Linked DNA regions of Homo sapiens. The protein of the gene in region 1 interacts with the protein of each later gene in a pairwise test. Each region holds a gene or a part of one and is shown on either strand. Other genes may lie near its edges.

The links. Proteins that work in one complex are often made in the same cells at the same time.
Region 2: the proteins of MEST (region 1) and ING5 interact in a two-hybrid assay, tested with the Homo sapiens proteins (one large-scale study listed by BioGRID and IntAct).
Region 3: the proteins of MEST (region 1) and CD300C interact in a two-hybrid assay, tested with the Homo sapiens proteins (one large-scale study listed by BioGRID and IntAct).

Annotation. Positions count from the first base shown.
Region 1 is NC_000007.14:130,504,525-130,506,965, reverse strand, and holds the end of MEST (mesoderm-specific transcript homolog protein), read right to left. Parts: intron 2,028-2,441; coding exon 1,910-2,027; 3' UTR 501-1,909; downstream 1-500. Other genes in the region: COPG2 (coatomer subunit gamma-2), read left to right, coding at 160-290.
Region 2 is NC_000002.12:241,715,539-241,719,038, reverse strand, and holds part of ING5 (inhibitor of growth protein 5), read right to left. Parts: intron 1-3,500. UniProt on the Homo sapiens protein: Component of the HBO1 complex, which specifically mediates acetylation of histone H3 at 'Lys-14' (H3K14ac) and, to a lower extent, acetylation of histone H4. Component of the MOZ/MORF complex which has a histone H3 acetyltransferase activity.
Region 3 is NC_000017.11:74,540,573-74,543,115, reverse strand, and holds the end of CD300C (CMRF35-like molecule 6 precursor), read left to right. Parts: intron 1-128; coding exon 129-255; intron 256-1,379; coding exon 1,380-1,527; 3' UTR 1,528-2,043; downstream 2,044-2,543.

The sequences.
Region 1 (2,441 bases):
TATTTGGAATTTATGTTTGTTTAGGATTCAGTTTCCACAAGTCTCTGGAAAAGCTAAACTAAACTAATAGAAAGGAGATGCAGGGATAGCATGATAAATTTCATTATCCAGTGCTTGTTTTGGGTTCTTAATATGGTTTTCCTTACTTTTTTCTCTCAGGTATATTCAGAGGTGGCTATGATTTATTGGTGAGGTCCAGGCTGGCCTTAGCCGATGGAGTGACCATGCAGGTGACTGTCAGAAGTAAAGAGAGAACACCTGTAGATGTTATCTTAGCTTCTGTTGGATAAATGCTTACTGGACAAGAGGAAACTGATGCACACTACATGGTCAGTGGGCTTTTAGGCTAGTGGCATCAGTTTCCCAGAATCAGACTTTTGAAGATGAATGACTTTGGAGAAGCAAATTAAACATTTGGCCCTGAGCCAGCAGATCAAGCAAATGTCTATCTTTGCGCATGGGTTGTTTTTTTTTTTTTTTCTTTTTATTCTACTTGGTCAGCTTTGGGACGATAGTGCAGCTTTGGGTGATCTTGAAAATCAAATACTATCCTATACTCCAGCTGCTTAACTTCATTTTATTCTTTAATGTGTACCTGAAAGCTCCTGGCAATGCTGGAAAATTTTTATCCCAGAGGGGTGGGGGGGAGGGGGGAGGGGAAGCCAGAGTCCACTTTTGTCACAATTCATTTTTATTAATAGAAAATAAACACTTATTCCAGTTTCAAAGTTGTTATACTTGAAGTTGCTAATTTAAAAAAACGAATTTTAAATAATCACTTAATAATCCTGCTTTGACTAAGACAATGAAATGTGGCTTTAAAAAAAAAGTATTCAGCACCATTTGCTCATAGGTCTTTCAGAGTTTGTTCTTAAAGTTTCTGGAACTTTCCTGTCTGTAAAGTAACAGGAATTACTGAGCTACATTGGAAAGCCTCTCTGGGACAGGCAGTGGGGAGTTAAGCAGTCATCATAAAGGAATCAGTGTACATTCAGCATGGTGACTTGACTACACAACAATCCCTTCCCCTCTACTGTAGCTCAAGAGAGACATGCTTCTAACCACTGAGGTATGAGGAGTCTCAGACTGTTATTTGCTGTTAGAATTGGTCTTCCCAGCTAATAACAGTACATCTCTGGCACAGATGCTATTGGTCCTTAATGTCCTGTGATTTTAGGAAATAGTTTGGATTTAGTTCAATTTATTCAGAAACCAAATGTGTTTAATTAGCTTCACTACTCTGGCAGAGTAAGGGTATGCTGGTTTAGTATCTTTATAAAATATATATAATGTATAGGTAAATCATAGTCTTAAATCATACCTAAAATACTGTATCATTTAAACCAATATCTATTTTAACAAAATGTTTATAACTAAAAACAGCTGATGAAACACTAAATCCAAAGGTATGACAAAGAGGACTCAGCTCTGTGTTGCTTAAAGAACTTTTAAAAGGCATGTGCCCATAACGTCATTCGAGGAGAGGGAAGGAGCCCCCCTTCTCCTCCTCCTTACTATAGAATTCCTGTTGGGGGTGGGCCAGAAATTAGCACTTCTAAATATTTCAGAGAAGTCCAAAGTGTTAAAAAAAAGTCTTTTATGCAAAAGAACGTCTTTCTGCATCAGTGAATAGTAATGCTCATCAGAATTTCCTAATAGCACAAAAAACAAAGCCAAGTCTATACATTTGATCAGATATCAAAGTAATGGGAGGTGGACTATTATGTCAACCTTAGTCAGAGCTCCTGCTGGCTTCTTCCTATACACTGTTCACCAATTTGAGTAAAGTGGACTTTGTGAGAGAATTATGTTTGATGGCCAGGACCTCTTTTGGGCATTTCTTCCTAAGTGGAATACACAACACATAAGGGAGTAGGGGAGGTAATACAGGGAAGCTACTCTTTCCAGCTCAGAAGGAGTTGATGAAGCCCATATATGCATTCAAGAAGCCCATGGGATCCTCTAGCTGTGGATAGTGGCTAATGTGGTCATCCAGAATCGACACTGTGGACCGCGGCAGCGTTTTCCTAGTGGAAGAGAACAGCACGCAGGTGAACTTGAGGCTGGAGCGGGAGGGATGTAAGCCAGTGGGAAGCCCCAGTAAATGACCCTGTGGACACACCACACTGGAAGGAGCCACCAAAGAGCTTATTCACCTTCTACTCTGAAATTGTATCTTAGGCAGATAAACTTGCCAATTCCATTTATACAAACTAGTTTTTAAATGTTCATAATCCAACAAACAACAACTTGAAAATATAACACTTTTGCAACAATTGTCAAAGCAAGATGACTTTCAGCTCCTTAGAGAAGGATGAAGCATCAAACAAGTGGATCACACAGCAACTCACTGCCCAAGCAGAGATAACCAAGGATCTTCCCTTAATCCCAGGAGGAGATGAGAGAGGGGGTATTTTATTTAAAATTATATGCAAGCTGTT
Region 2 (3,500 bases), on another chromosome or scaffold:
CCAGCCCTATTGGCCTGGACTAAAACAGAACGAACACCTCCTGGGGAGAACAGAAATTTCCCTCTCCACGCTTCCTTTATATCTAAAGTCAGACAGCTAATAAATCATGAGACATGTACCCTCAGCAGGGAAATAGGACTGATTATGTTTTTTTAAAAGCTGGTTACCAAGGAATGGTGGCACATGCCTGTGATCCCGGCTACTCAAGTGACCCTCCCACCTCAGCCTTCCAAAGTGCTGAGATTACAGGCATGAGCCAAAGCACCCAGCCCTACAATCTCTTAAATGAAAAATGTATTAAAGGAGATTAAAACTAACTTAGGGCCGGGCACAGCAGCTCACGCCTGTAATCCCAGCACATCGGGAGGCCAAAAACAGGCAGATCCACCTGAGGCCAGGAGTTCGAGACCAGCCTGCATAACACGGTGAAACCCTGTCTATACTAAAAATACAAAATTAGCCAGTCATGGTGGCACGTGCCTGTAATTCCAGCTACTTGGGAGGCTGAGGCAGAGAATCGCTTGAACTTGGGAGGCGGAGCTTGCAGTGAGCCAAGATTGTACCAGTGCACTCCAGCCTGGGTGACCAAGCAAGACCGTCTCAAAAAAAAAAAAAAAAAGACAGAAAGAGAAAAGAAGGAAGGAAGGAAGGAAGGGAGGGAGGGAGGAAGGGAGGGAGGGAGGGAAGGAGGAAGGAAGTGAGGGAGGGAGGGAGGAAGGGAGGAAAGAAGAAAGGAAGGAAGGAAAGAAAGAAGGAAAGGGAAGGTGAGAGGCTGAGCTGGGCGGATCACTTGAGGCCAGGAGTTTGAAACCAGCCTGGCCAACAGGCTGAAACCCCGACTCTACTAAAAATACAAAACTTAGCCGGGTGTGGTGACGCTCACCTGTAATCCCAGCTACTTGGAAGGCTGAGGCGGGAGAATGGCTTGAACCCGGGAGGCAGAGGCTGCGGTGAGCGGAGATTGCGCCACCGCACTCCAGCCTGGGCCACAGAGCCTGAACCTGTCTCATAAATAAATAAAGTAATAGAAACAAATCAAACTGAAGTACAGAAAGAAAAAAGCTTGCAGAAAGTAAGCAGAGCCTCGGTGAGCTGTGAGAAAATCTAAGCTAAGGAACGCACAGGGAGCTGGACAGCAGGAAGAGGAGAAAGGAGAGCACAAAAATACTGGAAGAACTGTCTGAAAATTTTCCAAATTCGATGCAAAGTATAAACCAACAGTTCAAAGATGCTCAACAAGTTCCACGCAAAATATACACAAAAAAATCACACCAATACACATCATAACCAAACTGTTAAGAGCCAGTGACAATGAGAAATCTTAAAAGCAAAAAAAAAAAAAGAAACCACCAAAAATAATTATTATCAGTAATTTATCATCAGAATCAATGAAAGACAGAAGAAAATGAGAGAACATCTTTAGCGATAAAAGAAAAAAGGTCAACCTAAAATTCTATACGCAGTGAAATAAAAGCATTTTCAGAGAAACAAAAACAGAGAATTCATCACCATCAGCATACATGTACTGCAAAAAATGTTAAAGTTCTTCAGTAGAGGAGAAATGACAAGACAGAAATTTGCATCCACATAAAGAAATATACGTAAGCAGAATATGTATGGAAAAAAAATTTTTAAAGAAAGAAAATAAATATTAAGAAATAATAGTTGGGCCAGGCGCGGTGGCTCATGCCTGTCATCCTGCCACTTTGGGAGGCTGAGGCGAGAGGGTCACTGGAGGCCAGGAGTTCGAGACCAGCCTGGCCAACATGGCAAAACCCCATCTCTACTAAAAATACAAAAATTAACCAGGTGAGTAGGTGGGTGTAATCTCAGCTACTCAGGAGGCTGAGGCACAAGAATCACTTGAACCTGGGAGGCAGAGGTTGCCGTGAGCTGAGATCGCACCACTGCACTCCAGCCTGGGACACAGAGCAAGACTCTGTCTCAAAAAAAAAAAAAAATGAAGGTTACCAGAAATGGCAACTATATGAGGTAACTATATATGGGGTGACTTTTGTGGTGAGAACACTTAAAATCTACACATTTTTTTGAGACTATATTGTTATTAACTGTAGTCACCATGTTGTAAAACGGATCTTTTGAACTTATTCCTCCTATCTAAATGAAATTCTGTATCCAACGTCTCCCCTGACCACCCCAGCGCCTGACCACCATTCTACTCTCTACTTCTGTGAGTTCAACATCTTTACATTCCACATATATTTTAAGGCGTGTTTCACGTCATCAGTGGTTTGCATCTAAGGTAATAACGTGCTGGGAAGCTCAGATCACAGGCAAAGTGAAGGACAACAGCACAAAGGCAGGAAATGGAAGAACACTTGTGTGGAGCCACACGTTAAACATCAAATAGTGTAATATCTGAAGCTCACTGTGATAACTTAAGGAAACTGAGTGCACACACTAGAACAATCCTTAAAATACAGGGGCCGGGGCAGTGGCTCACGCCTGTAATCCTAGCACTTTGGGAGGCCGAGGTGGGTGGATCACTTGGGGTCAGGGGTTCGAGACCAGCCTGGCCAAAATGGTGAAAACCTGTCTCTACTAAAAATACAAAAACATTAGCCGGGTGTGGTGGCGCACACCTATAATCCCAGCTACTGCGGAGGCTGAGGCATGAGAATCGCTTGAACCTGGGAAGCAGAGGTTGTAGTGAGCCAAGATCATGCCATTGCAAATTGTACTCCAGCCTGGGCAACAGTGCAAGACTCCGTCTCAAAAAAAAAAAAAAAAAAAAAAGCATGGCTAATAAGACAAGAGTGGGGAAAAAAACGGAATACTAAAAAATACCTGATTAGTCCAAAAGAAGACAGCAAAGGAGCAGAAGGAACAAACAGAAAACTAATAGCAAGATGGTGAACCTAAATCCCACCATATCATTAATTATGTTAAATATGAACAGACCAAATATTGCAATGAAGGCCGGGTGCGGTGGCTCATGCCTGTAATCCCAGCACTTTACAGGGAGGGGAGGCCAAGGTGGGCAGATCATTTGAGGTCAGGAGTTCGAGACCAGCCTGCCCAGCATGGTGAAATCCTGTCTCTGTTAAAAATACAAAAATTAGCTGGCTTTCAAAGGATTTCAATTATGTAATGTTCTTTGACCACAACAGAAGTCAACTAAAAAATTAAAATTAGAAAGGTATCTGAAAAATCCCAAATTATTTGGAAATTGAGACACATACTTCTACATAAGTTATAGGGCAAAGAAGTAGCATGAAAAAAAAAATTCTAGGTCAGGTGCGGTGGCTCACGCCTGTAATCCCAGTATGTTGGGAGGCCAAGGCAGGCAGATCACCTGAGGTCAGGAGTTCAAGACCAGCCTGGCCAACATGGTGAAACCCTGTCTCTACTAAAAATACAAAAAAAAATTAGCCAGGCATGGTGATACGTGCCTGTAATCCCAGCTACCCAGGAGGCTGAGGCAAGAGAATTGCTTGAACCTGGGAGGTGGAGGTTGCAGTGAGCCAAGATCACACCAC
Region 3 (2,543 bases), on another chromosome or scaffold:
TGATGGATGCAGGGCATCTGTCCAGCACATCATTGGTGACCTTGTCTGTGAAAATTGGAGCAGAACAGGTGAGAGTAAGTGGGAGACCCATGTGATGTCATCAAGGTTGACCTGTGTTTCACCCACAGCCGGGACGACCACAGCCTCCAGCCCCCAGAGCTCCATGGGCACCTCAGGTCCTCCCACGAAGCTGCCCGTGCACACCTGGCCCAGCGTGACCAGAAAGGACAGCCCCGAACCCAGCCCACACCCTGGGTAAGGTGCCTGCGCATAGGACTGGGCCACGCTGGCGGCCTCCCCACTGCGTGTGATGTTTAGGGGACTCGGATGTCCCTTCTTCCAGTCCCTTCTTTGTTCGCACCTCCCACACCAAACGTGAAGGTTCTATTAAGTGTCAGGCGCTCCTTTTGGGATTGGGTCACAGCAGGGAACCACACAGCCACTGTCCTGCCCTGGTGGAAGTTGAGTTCTACTGCGTGGATTCACGCATTGAGCAAGTCAGCACAGAGGCTGATGTACAAATACAGCAAAGGGTAATGAATGCTGGGATGAGATGTTTGACTCTTGGGTTTGGGGAGAGCGTGTGCAGGTGTTGGAGTTGCTATTTCACTGACGATGATCAGAAGAGGGTTTGAGAATTAGAGGACATGAGCACAGAGACCTCAAGGGTTGGGGGCTGGGCACTCTGGGGTCTGGAGGAAGAAGGGTCCAGGTGGAGGGAGGAGTGAGGCAAATGTCCTGCGAGGAGCCTTGGGACCTGGCCAGGCCAGGGAAGGGGGCAGATGCTCTGGGGTCCGGTGGCCCTGGTCCTCTCCCCTGCCTCTCTCGCAGCCCTGGCCAGAGTTTCATCCTGTTTGATAAGCCCAGTCCTCTGAGGAGCTGAGAGCTGAGCTGTCCATTCATTAATTCCTTCAACAACCACTGAAGTTGTAGGGCAGATTATTGGAGACTCCGGGTAGGCAGCAGGTACTCACTGTGAATGAAACAAATGGTCCCTGCCCTCCTGGAAACGCTGTGTACAGGAGAGTTGACACCAAACAAATAACCCTTTGTGAATTCCGGGACCCCAGCTGGGTAACCCTCCATGGGGAGCACAGAGGTAGACAGCTGCGTCCTGGACACAGACCCTGCCTGGATCCCTGGCGTGACCTCACGTCCTCTCATGGTCCTGCCCTTCCTGTGTCACAGTCCTCAGGTCAAGGGTAAATCCGAGGCTGAGGGTTAGGGGCCGTGATGCTGAGACGGGATGGACTGTCCAGGGGGGTGCTTATGTGGTTGGCTGTGGTCACAGGATTGGGACACAAGGGTCAGGGGATGGTGGAGGGCACCTGGGCCTCCCCTGGGGAGGTGACTCACTGCCTGTCACCGTGTCCCCACAGCTCCCTGTTCAGCAATGTCCGCTTCCTGCTCCTGGTCCTCTTGGAGCTGCCCCTGCTCCTGAGCATGCTGGGTGCCGTCCTCTGGGTGAACAGACCTCAGAGAAGCTCTAGAAGCAGGCAGAATTGGCCCAAGGGTGAGAACCAGTAGCATCTGCTGTCCATCAAGGCCCTGTGCTGCAACAGAGCCCCTCTGGGGGACTGGAATGACCTCCTGACCACTCCCTCCCGGGCTGCTCTCTCCACATCTCCTGGAATCCTTTGTGAGCCTCCTTCAGCCTTTTCCCTGTGCCCGATCCTCATGTGTCACATGTGAACCTGACGGACATGGACGCCCTGAGCTGTGAGTCCACGTCTCATGTGCACGCCCCGGCCAGCTAAGCCTCGGGCCGTCAGCAATACCTCTGAGTGCCCGGATGCCCTCCCTGCACCCTTCCATTTCTCCAGGAGCCTGGCACTGCTTCCTCCACCGTTTTCACAGGGAGAAGCAGGTCTAGGACTCCCCTGCACCTTTGCCACCATAATGGCCCACACTCCCTGGGTCCAGGAGTGTAGAATATGCGGCTGCTTCCATTTGCTGAGTGTGTCGATTCAATGATGCTTTCAAACTTTAATAAATGACAATGTGTAGGTTTGGGATGTATCAGGCCCACTCAGTCAGACCTGAGTGAGAAATCCATTGTTCCCTGATTTCCACAGGCCTTTGCTGAGAATAGTGGACCAAGCCCCATGTTAGGCCTCTCGGAATGGGGGTCCCTGCAGAAAAGGATCCAGAATTTCCCCCAAAGCCTGACTATTCCCTCCTTCAGGTAGACACATCCTGGCCAGTGTCTTTAGGTCCCTCTGGGAGAGCTGGTAGAAGATTCTCAGTGTGAACTGTGGTAGCATAACCAGGCCTACCCTTCCTCCTTCTTCAAGGGGACCTGACCTCTCCTTCATTCCAGGGCTGTGGGTTTTAACTGGTGCAAATTTGGAAACGGATGGAGGGCTATGACTCCTTGATGTGGTAGTTAAGTGAGTCTTTTGCTCAGTAGTGTAGACCATGTCTGTCTATACAGACGAAAGATGTTATCATTTGCCCACCATTTCAGTTCCAGGGTCGCCATGATGACCTGGCCAACACCCAAGACCCCTGTGAGGCAGATGATTCCCATGAGTCCTCCTGGT